Homo sapiens: one gene and its partners. The protein of the gene in region 3 interacts with the protein of the main gene of each other region in a biochemical or structural test. Each region holds a gene or a part of one and is shown on either strand. Other genes may lie near its edges.

Evidence for each region.
Region 1: the proteins of NFKB1 (region 3) and MAP3K8 form a complex in vitro, tested with the Homo sapiens proteins (2 studies listed by BioGRID and IntAct, with this or other methods).
Region 2: of the proteins of NFKB1 (region 3) and CHUK, one has a biochemical effect on the other in vitro, tested with the Homo sapiens proteins (3 studies listed by BioGRID and IntAct).

Annotation. Positions count from the first base shown.
Region 1 is NC_000010.11:30,451,119-30,454,872, reverse strand, and holds part of MAP3K8 (mitogen-activated protein kinase kinase kinase 8), read right to left. Parts: intron 3,236-3,754; coding exon 3,129-3,235; intron 1-3,128.
Region 2 is NC_000010.11:100,222,995-100,226,748, forward strand, and holds part of CHUK (inhibitor of nuclear factor kappa-B kinase subunit alpha), read right to left. Parts: intron 3,024-3,754; coding exon 2,929-3,023; intron 1-2,928.
Region 3 is NC_000004.12:102,609,205-102,612,958, forward strand, and holds part of NFKB1 (nuclear factor NF-kappa-B p105 subunit), read left to right. Parts: intron 1-1,370; coding exon 1,371-1,495; intron 1,496-2,839; coding exon 2,840-2,906; intron 2,907-3,229; coding exon 3,230-3,402; intron 3,403-3,754.

The DNA of each region.
Region 1 (3,754 bases), on a different chromosome or scaffold from region 3:
CAAATATGCTGAAACATTTTCCAAAGAAAACATGTCGTAAGCATTAAGTCTTATTAGACCTCACACTTTGGTAAAGTATTCTTAAGATCTGGGGACTAAGCATTCTTAAAAAAAAAAAAAAAGTACAGCTTCCCTTCTGAATATTGTTCTGCTCAAAGACAACCGTCAAGAATCCTCGCTCGAGCATTTTCAATAATAACTTCAGTAATATTCACAAAAGCAAGGATTTCTTCTGCTGCCCGGGAGAGTGCTGGCTTTGAGAGAGTTGAGAAAGGACTTACAGAATCTTGGCGTTTTTTTTTTTTTTAGGACAAGGTCTTGTTCTATTTTCCAGGCTATGGGTGCAGTGGCATAATCACAGCTCACTGCAGCCTCATCCTGGGCTCAAGCAATCCTCCCACCTCAGTCTCTTGAGTAGCTGGGACTACAGACATGCACCACCATGCCATTTTTACAAAAAGTAAAGTTTTTGTTTGTTTGTTTGTTTACTTTTTGTAGCGATGGGGTCTCACTATGTTGCCCAGGCTGGAAGAATCTGGTTTGAAAGGAAGACAATTTTTTTGTGGCTGCAATCCAGTTCAGTGCAACACGTATACTAGCTAGACTAGACTAAGGGTTGTCATCTGATTGAACACCAAGACTGACCTGGTAATCCTGACATAGAGGTGCAGCCAAAGACCCTCTCTCTATTTCCTATGGGCACTTCCAGCAAAGAGAAGGGCATGGGGCTGAGTGGCTCAGGCAGTGCAGCTTCCCCCGGTAGTGGTGAGGGGCCAAGGAGGCAGCTTTTACACCCATTTACCTTCCTGCTTGCATCCAACCTTGTGCCCATCACAATCAACTGTGAACTAAACTGTTGTGCATGCTTTCTTTCTTTCTTTCCTTCTTTTTCTTTCCTTCCTTCCTTTTTCTTTCTCCTTCCTTCCTTCCTTCCTTCCTTCCTTCCTTCCTTCCTTCTCTCTCTCCCTCCCTCCCTTCCTTCTTTTTTTCTTTTTTTTTTTCAAAAGAGATGAGGTCTGACTCTATTGCTCAGGCTGGTCTCGAACCCCCAGGCTCAAGCAAACCACCCCCACCTCCTTGGCCTTTCGAACGGTTGGGATTACAGGTGTGAGAACACCACGCCCATCCCTAAACGGTTGCTCTTTTAATAATTCAGGTAATTTAAAGTAAGTCCTCCCACCAAAGAGTGAGGATCGCTGGAGTACCACTAAGGCTTGCTCCTCACTGCCTTGTGTCATGCTTCCTCGTTGGTGCTCACAAGAACCTGCCACATAGCAGATGCCCAGTGGACACTGGCTAATTGAATCACCCAGTCAGCCTAATGATGTGAATGTTAAATACATTACTTGGAAGCCCGCGAACGCATTTTTCAGAATCTCATTTAGAGTCAGGAAAGAAAGGCTTTTCTGGGTCGTTTTTTGCTTCACAGATGAGTTAAACATGAGTGCTGTTTTACATCTTTAAATAAGATACATTTATGCTCACTACTTGAGGTTTATTATAGAATTCCTAGGCTCAAAGAGAGGCCTTTAGAGTCCTCATAAATATTAATGACCATAGTTAAGACTGTCATTGAGCCAAAACTCAGTGATATTAGTTATATCACTAATATATTTTAATAATGTATGTAATATTATAATTTTTTAAAGTTATGTAGCAGTTAGACCTTAGGGTTAGACTTAGAAAGAACTGGGTTCAAGTCCAGGGTCTGTCACTGAGTGACTCTGGACACTTTATTTTAATCTCTGCAAACTTATTTCCTTGATTGTAAAATAAGAATAACAATAGCAACAACTGGGTTGTTGTAAGGATTAAATAACATACTGCTTTTTAAGTGCTAAACTTATTATAAAGTTAACTCTAATTCTATAATTATTATTAAAGCTGAACTGTGGGCCAGACACGGGGGCTCAAACCTGTAGTCCCAGCACTTTGGGAGGCTGAGGTGGGAGGATCACTTGAGGCCAACAGTTCATGACCAGCCTGGCCAACATAGTGAAACCTGCATCTCTACTGAAAAAAAAAAAAAATTAGCTGGATGTGGTGGCACATGCCTGTAATCTCAACTACTCAGGAGACTAAGAAGCGCTTGAACCCAGGAGGTGGAGATTACAGTGAGCTGAGATCATGCGCCACTGTCCTACAGCCTGGGCGATGGAGCAAGACTCTGTCTCAAAAACAAAAACAAAAACACACAAAATAAAGCCGAACTGTGGATATGATCTATTTTGGGGGGCTTTTTTTTTTTTTGAAGCAACATCTCGTTCTGTCATCCAGGCTGGAATGCCCATGGCTCACTGCAGCCTTGAACTCCTGGGCTCAAGCAATCCTCCTACCTCAGCCTCCCAACTAGCTGAGACTACAGGCGTGTACCACCACACTGAGCTAATTTTTTTTTTTTTTGAGATGGAGTTTCACTCTTGTTGCCCAGGCTGGAGTGCAATGGCACGATCTCGGCTCACCTCAACCTCTGCCTCCTGAGTTCAGATGATTCTCCTCCCTCAGCCTCCCGAGTAGCTGGGATTACAGGTGCCCGCCACCACGCCTGGTTAATTTTGTATTTTTAGTAGAGACGGGGTTTCTCCATGTTGGTCAGGCTTGTCTCAAACTCCCGACCTCAGGTGATCCGCCCATCTCAGCCTCCCAAAGTGCTGGGATGACAGGTTTGAGCCACCGTGCCCAGCCTAAACCAGTTTTTTTTTATAGAGATGGGGTCTTGCTATGATGCCTAAGCTTGTCTCAAAGTCCTGGGCTCAATTGATCCTCCCACCCCAGCCTCCCAAAGCACTGGGATTACAGGCATTAGCCACCACACCTGGCCAATGTGATCTATTTTGACATGACATTGTGTACAAATGTTCTATATTATATATATCAACATGTATATTATATTACAAATACTATTATGTATTATAAATAACATAGCAAAAAATACAATAAAAAATCAAGTGCTAAACTTAGTACTTGACACAGAGCAAGTGCTCATTAAATGTGTTCCAAGGAAAATAATGATTTAATGCAGTGGGTTTCTTCCCCTTCTTTGTCCTTCGTTCCCACAATAATTCTAGAACATTTTTTCCTTTTTATTCTTAATAAAATAGTAACCCTTTTCATGTGAACATAATTACCTCTGTTCCTCGGAGGTCCTTAGGAAAATAGACATCTTCGGTCATTTGAACACTTAGGCCAAAATCCACCAAAACAGCTTTTGTGGACATGAAAACAATGTTGCTAGCTAAAATGAGAGGAAATATTTTTAAGATAAAATTTTTTATATACCCATAAGTCAAATGAAAACATTATCTAAAACAATAATGAATCTCCAATCAGAAAAGACTGAAATGCTTCCTCTAGTGAGATGGTTGTATTATATTCAAAAGAGGAGAATGAAATTCAGAGTTGAGGTGAAAATCACTTTGGATCCATCAAGAATACAGCCAATGTGGGTATGAATGATTGTAGCCATTAATAATGTTCAAGAACTTGAATTTCAAACTCTAAGACATAAGCATACTGTTGTCAAGCCACTTTTCTAAAACAGAAAAGTAAAATACCCATCTTTTTTCCCAGTGAAAGTTGTGCCACTCTAATTTAGTACTGGCTATTAAAGGTTTACCTATTTCCTCATCATATCAGACTCCTAGAAAACAGTTAGTAAAGGTGTGTTTAATGGATTATTGTTACATTGGTATAAAAAATGAAAAAGGTATTTGTTTCTCAAAAATACTTGTCTCTGTGTTTGTATGTTTTTAAG
Region 2 (3,754 bases), on a different chromosome or scaffold from region 3:
AAACATTACAATAAAAAAAATTATTTCCAATAAAAAGGGACTGGATTTGAAATGCTACTTAATTGTGGGTGGATGAACAGAGGGGGAAAGATCAGTATTATTTATAATATTCTAATTTCTGATTTGTATAATTAAAAATTAGTAATTTTTTAAAAGAAAACACACATAAAAATACCATCACTATTACTACTATTACATTTCTAAGTGCCAAGCAGTAAACATTTTAAATATATTAACTCAGTTACTTGTCACAATAATCCTATTATAGGTAGATTTATTAATACTTTCACCACACAGGAGAAAATTGAAGCACAAATTGGCTAAGTAACAAGATCACACAGTGAGTAAGTCAAATCTGGCGTTCTAGGCTGGGTGTAGTTGTAACTGTAATCCCAACAATTTGGGAGGCTGAGGTGGGAGGATTGCTTGAGGCCAGGAGTTCGAGATCAGCATGGGTAACACAGTGAGACCTCATCTCTACAAAAAATTAAAAATTAGCCGGGTGTGGTGGCGCATGCCTATAGTCCCAGCTACTCCAGAGGCTGAGGTGGGAGGACTGCTTGAGCCCAGGAGTTCAAGTCAAGCCTGGGTAACATAGCAAGACCACATCTCTTTTAAAAAAAAAAAGAAAAAAAGAAAAAGAAGCAAACAGAATTTCCATGTACATGTAGGACCTGATAATTTATACTATTAAGCTTTCCTGGTGATTCTGCCACATAACCAAGTTTGAGAATCAAAATGGAATTAAGCACAGATATTAGAGTCAGAAAGTATTTATTTCAAATCCACACTTTACCAACCACCAGCTATGTGATTCTATAAGCTTCAACTTCCTCATTTGCAAAATAATACCTAAATATAAGATTGCTGTGATAACTGGAAGAATGATCTGTAAAGTACTTAGCACACTACCTGTGGAAGTTTTAAAATATGTCTACTTCTCTTTTTAAGAGCTTAACTCTCCTCCCCTTGAATGTAGGCTGTACTTAGTGACTCACTGTAACAAACAGAATGTGGTGGAAAAGGATGGAGTCTCACTTCCAAGTAAAGATCATAAAAGATACGTCGGTTTTCATCTTGCTCGCTCGTTCACTCTCTCTCTCTCTCTCTCTCTCTCAGATCACTCACTCTTTCTGAGGAAAAGATCTTTCTGGGGAAAGCTAGCTTCCATGTCATGAAAACATTCAAGCTTCCCCATGAAGAGGCCCACATGGCGAAGAACTGATGCTTTTGGCCAACATTCATATAAGTGAGCATGGAAGCAGATACTCCAGCCCCAGTCAAGCCTTTGGATTACTGCAGCTCCGACCAATATCCTGAGATGTCTCAGGAAAGACTCTAAGCTAGAATCACCCAGCTAAGCCACTCCCAAATTCCTAAGTCACAGAAACTATAAGATACTAAATGTTTGCTATTTTAAGCCACTAAATGTTGGGGTAATTTATTTTTTATTATTTATTTATTTATTTAGAGACGGAGTCGCCCAGGCTGGAGTGCAGTGGTATGATCTCAGCTTACCGCAACCTCCGCCTCCCGGGTTCAAGCAATTCTCCTCCCTCGGCCTCCCAAGTAGCTGGGATTACAGGCACCCGCCACCACACCTGGCTAATTTTTGTATTTTTAGTAGAGATGGGGTTTTGCCATGTTGACCGGGCTGGTCTCAAACTCCTGACCTCAGGTAATCCATCCGCCTTGGCCTCCCAAAGTGCTGGGATTATAGGTGTGAGCCACCACGCCCGGCCCTAGCTGACTTTTGTTAACTGAAATGAAATAGTTTTTTGATTGTGGTAAAACACACATAGCATAAAATTTACCACCTTAACCATTTTTAAGTGTACAGTTTAGTGGCATCAAGATGCTTTCCTTTTTTTTCAGACAGGGTCTTGCTCTTGTCACCCAGGCTGGAGTACAGTGGTATGATCTCAGCTCACTGTAGCCTTGACCTCCTGGGCTCAAGCAATCTTCCCACCTCAGCCTCCCAAGTAACTGGGACTACGGGCATGCACCACCACACATAGCTAGTTTTTATATTTTTTGTAGAGATGGGGTTTTGCCATGTTGCCCAGGCTGGTCTCGAACTCCTGAGCTCAAGCAATCCACCCACCTCAGCCTCTCAAAGTGTTGGAATTACAGTGTGAGCCAACATGCCCAGCCTGGCATCAAATACTTTCACAATGTTTTGCTACTATCACTATACTGCACAAAACTGTTTAATTCTGCAAAGCTGAAACTCCGCACCTATTAAAAATTATTCTCTATTTGCTGGTCCCTTCACCCTCTGGCAAACACCATTCTACTTTCTTTCACTGTGAGTTTGACTACTCTAGGTACCACACATAAGTGGAATGACACAGTATTTGTCTTTTTGTGACTGGCTTATTTCATTTAGCATAATGTCCACAAGATTCATCCATGCTGTGGCATGTGTCAGAGTTTCATTCCTTTTTAAGGCTGCATGATATTCCGTTTCATGAATATACCACATTTTGTTTATACATGTCTCTGCTGGTAGATACTGGGTTGCTTTTACCTTTCAGCTATTGTGAATAATAATGTTATGAATATGAGTGTACAAATTACTCTTTAAGTCCCTGCTTTCAATTCATTTTTGTATATACCCAGAAATGGAATTGCTGGATCATATGGTAATTCTATTTTTAATTTTTTAGGAATCACCGTACTGTTTTCCGTAACAGTTGCACAATTTTACATTCCCACCAACAGTGTGTAAGTGTCCTAGCTGATTTTAACTAAACCTTCTTAATCTTAATGTGATATTATTATTTGAAATAGAATATATTTAATGAGAGAAAAAAATATATGTTCCCAAAAAGATCCTGAGAAGAGTGGATTCCTGGCCTCTTTCCCCATGATGACATCTGGTTGGGCTGTAGAACCAGGGAAATGTAAGTCAAGGAATACACTTACTTCTTCATAATCTGGATTTCATGGCACCATCGTTCTCTGTTTTTGGTACTTAGCTCTAGGCGACAAGACTTAATTGCTATTTTGAGATCAAGTTCCTGCCAAAATAGAAAATCAACAGAAAAAAAAAATTAGGTTCTTGTGAAGATTTATTTGCTACCAAAGAAATAACTTAAGACAACAAAACTTTTTAGCTTTACTAATTAAATATATTTATCCACAGCTCTCTTGAGGCAATGCTTTTTAAAAAGATAAACCATGAGACTATTACACCAATGCTTTAAAACTGACCTTCAAACACACAACAGCATACAAGGGAAAAGTGCCTGAAACTGATTTTATAACAGGTCTTTTCAGAACTCTCTCTCATATATAATGTTAGAAAAAAAAAGATCCTGTCTCCTCAGCAAACCCCTTTCAGAGCTTAATCAAGACAACTAATATGTGCCCCAGCTTCTAGCATAACTAAAATGAAGAAGGTAATTCAGGGCTTCCTGGACTCCAAACAGCAAGAGAAAGTTTTAATATAACCAAGCCTAAAGCAAAAAACTCCAATCCTAATGTATGCATTTCAAATGACATGAAGAAAAAAAATCCTACCAATGAGTGTACTTCTGCTTCCATAGCTACATAATGAACCTAACATCTCTTGCCTGTGACTAGTAATTTAGCCAATTCTGACTGAAATTAAACCCATTCTGATGCATATTACAGGAAATAGCCAGACCCCATCATATTCTGGCAACATTAATAATGCAGCTCAGAAATAGCAGTCAGGGCTAAACAGGCTACACTATGTTTCTGATATCACAAGGAGAGTTCAAAAGAA
Region 3 (3,754 bases):
CTTTATATTGAATTCTCAGAATCCCATGAAAGGAAAAGCAAGTAACAGTTTCTCTGATATATAAATGAAGAAACTCAGATGAAAAACCAAGTCCTAATCTTAATGTCGTGGAAAAGGTCAGTTAAGTCCGAGTGTGGTGGCTCACACCTGTAATCCCAGCACTTTGGGAGGCCAGGGTGGGTGGATCACCTGAGACTGGCAGTTCGAGACTCACCTGGCCAACATGACGAAACCCCATCTCTACTAAAAATACAAAACTTAGCTGGGCGTGGTGGCATGCATCTGTAATCCCAGCTACTCAGAAGGCTAAGGAAGGAGAATAACTTGAGCCCTGGAGGCTGAGGTTGCAGTGAGCTGAGACTGCGCCATTGCACTCCAGCCTGGGCAACAGAGCAAGACTCCATCTCAAAAAAAAAAAAAAAAAAAAAAAGCGTCAGTTAAGAGATAGCTCATCCCTCCACACTTTGGTCCTGTAAATTGTTCATCTTAATTTCTCCATGGATTACATTTATTGCCTCATAGATCAGGCCAGAACTGGGAGAATAAAATCAAGAAACAGCATGAAGATCCTTCTTTGTTTCCCATTAAGTACTCCTCTATTATTGATATTGACCCATCTGATGTTCTCCCAGCAAGATAAAAACAAGTTCCTCCCTCAAAAATGGCATCATTAGACATCAAGCTAAACACTCATAAAAATCATCTAAGCCTCTGAGAAGTAACTCTAGCTCTAGTCTTTGAGTTACTTTGATGTTTTGTTTATTTGTTTGTTGTTTTTGTTTTTGCTGGATGCTAAAGAGCAGACTACATTTCCCAAAATATTTCAATAATTATACATCCTAGTAGGTTTGTTTATTTAAAGATCAGAACCCTGGCATTGCTGTACCCAGCAATGAAACTGGCCATGCTGTCACTAGACATCAAGCATCTTTGCTCTTTTGAGTGTCCAAGAAAAGGGGCTGAGAAATACACATTGTCATGCATAAATTTGAACAGTTAGGACCCTAATCCTGAGGGTGCACCCTAGTGGCTGTAATCATGCTGTCCATCAGCCCTAAGATTAAAGATGCACTATTCAGTTGAGAAATATCCTGTAGAGTTAAATGTGAAAGAGTATTTGAAGTCTTTTTTTCTTCAATAGTATCTTTGGCTATTTCAGGTGTCATAAGACACTTTAACAATCAAAGTAAATTACAATTTTAAAATAATTTCTCTGGATATTCCAGTAGAAATGTTTTATGATTTAAAAATTATCCAGGAGATTGCCTCAAGCTGCTACATTGCTTTGCCTTTGGGAATCTGACCTTTGCAGGCAGTTGGAAGTTGACAAGATCTGGGTTTACCTAATGCTGTGTAATCTAACTTCGCAGGAGCAGATCCCCTGGTGGAGAACTTTGAGCCTCTCTATGACCTGGATGACTCTTGGGAAAATGCAGGAGAGGATGAAGGAGTTGTGCCTGGAACCACGCCTCTAGATATGGCCACCAGCTGGCAGGTGAGTGCCGCTCCATCTGTCTGATGGCTGCCCCTGAGGGAGTCAGAGGTTCAGGAATGTAAGAACAGATGGTCTTCCTGGTGCTTTATTCCCCAAAGAACATGCCTTTTATTTTTAAGAAAGTCTGTTTGTCAGAGACCATTTTTATCTTGAAAAACCCTATCCATGAAAGATCTAGGTCAGCTGAGTTCTGAGTACGAAAGTGTATGCCTAATCAGATCAGAGTTGAGATGTGAGAAAAGGTTAGAAGAAAAACACAAAATTCACATAAAAGTTACCCATTCCAAATTCACACCATAATTGTGACCATCTCAATTTCTGAAGCTAGGATAAATGTTACTGTTTGCTTAGGACTTAGGTAAGTGATTTCAGGATGTAAAAATAAACTAAGAATTCTTCTTAGAATTTCAATAAATATAAACAGAGTAAATAGATTTAAAGCCTTCCTCAAAACTCCACAGGGCTGAGATCTGAAGGTATAAAGCAGTTACTAGGTCATTTGGCCCCAGGAAGAAAAGCCAGAGGGAGGAGGTGGGCAGCATGCAAGATCTCCAACATGACAAGATCAGTTCTTCTAGAGACGAGAGCTGCTCCACTTCTAAAACTGCTCATGTGCCTCCCACAGCCTGTATGTGTCCAGCTCACTGACGTTAGCATGGTTCTCCCTTTATGTTAGCACCTCATTTCCCCAGAAGGCCTTGCCACAGAACACAAAAAGATGATGCACTCAGTGACCCCACGCTCTCCTTACCCAGGTCAGCCAGCAACAGAGTGACTGCAGAGAACACCACAAATGCCTCGGCAGCTACAGAATAATTTTTCTTTTAGCCTAAGACAATTCTGGACCCTCAGTTAAAATGTCAGTATTGCCAGAGGGTTAACACCAAGCCTTGTGAACATCTAGACATCTCAATTTGAGCAAGTTTATACAATTCATTCTCATAAGCTTGTTCCTATGGAAGAAGGGAGACAGCTTCACAGCTCTGAGTAAGCTCTTCACTAGCCTTAGGTCTCTGAGCAGGAGATGATTGACATGGTGGCCTGGACTGCCTGTTCCTTCCAAAAGGCTATAGCTCTGACTCTCTGCAGTTTGGTTGGGTATTCTGACCCAGCTCAGAGTTTGTGCAAAGCACTATTTCCCAGTACCAGAGCCCCTACAGCTGTTCTTCCCCCAAAGGGTACCATATTCTTGGAGGGTGGTCCTGATTCCTCTTGCCATTCCTCCATCATTAGGGTACCAGGCCCTCCTAAGGAGGACATGCTGAGTTGTTTATTATAAAGAAACAGACTGCCCTAGTGGTCCCTTCGATGTATAACGATTTCTGGTGTTTTTCTTTCCAACAGGTATTTGACATATTAAATGGGAAACCATATGAGCCAGAGTTTACATCTGATGATTTACTAGCACAAGGTGGGTTGTGATAAAACCAGATTCTCTTAACCATTATTATCTCCACACTGTCATTTAAAGGGAGGAACCAGCATTATCCAGGGTCTACTGTTAAAAGTTCTTATTTCAGAACCAAAAGATGCTGGAGGTAGATAAGGAGAATATCCAGTTTTAATCTACTGTAAATGTATACTGCCTTCTACTCAGCTGGGCTTTGACCTTCAAGTAGAGTAGCTTGGTTGGTTCCACTGGGAGTTGGACAGCAAGCCAGGCAGCAATGATCAGTCCCTCCAGAGTGTCTATGGCATGTTAGAACAAGTGTGTTCCTTCTTCATTTCCTTCAGGAGACATGAAACAGCTGGCTGAAGATGTGAAGCTGCAGCTGTATAAGTTACTAGAAATTCCTGATCCAGACAAAAACTGGGCTACTCTGGCGCAGAAATTAGGTCTGGGGATACTTAATAATGCCTTCCGGCTGAGTCCTGCTCCTTCCAAAACACTTATGGACAACTATGAGGTAACACCTTACCTTACAGATTTAGCAATTTTCATTTGACTTTACTCTGTTAACATCTCTGGCCAGGGCATAATCTCCTTCCCTTTTCCTTAACTCTGAAGAAGAAAACCAGTCATTGCCCAAGGCCTGGGAGGGTGACCCAGGCCAAGTTGGCAGCCCATCTTCCTGAGAATGCTGTTTTCAGATACCTTCAGATTTTCCCCGTTTTCAAATACCTGGAGACTTCCTGTGAAAATGCTACGTAGAGGGTCAGGATTTTCACAGAACTTTAACGGCCCTGAGCAAACAATCGACTGTAATCAACGTGTAGCTTCCTGTCCCCAAGAACACACCTTACCCCATGGCAGGGCAT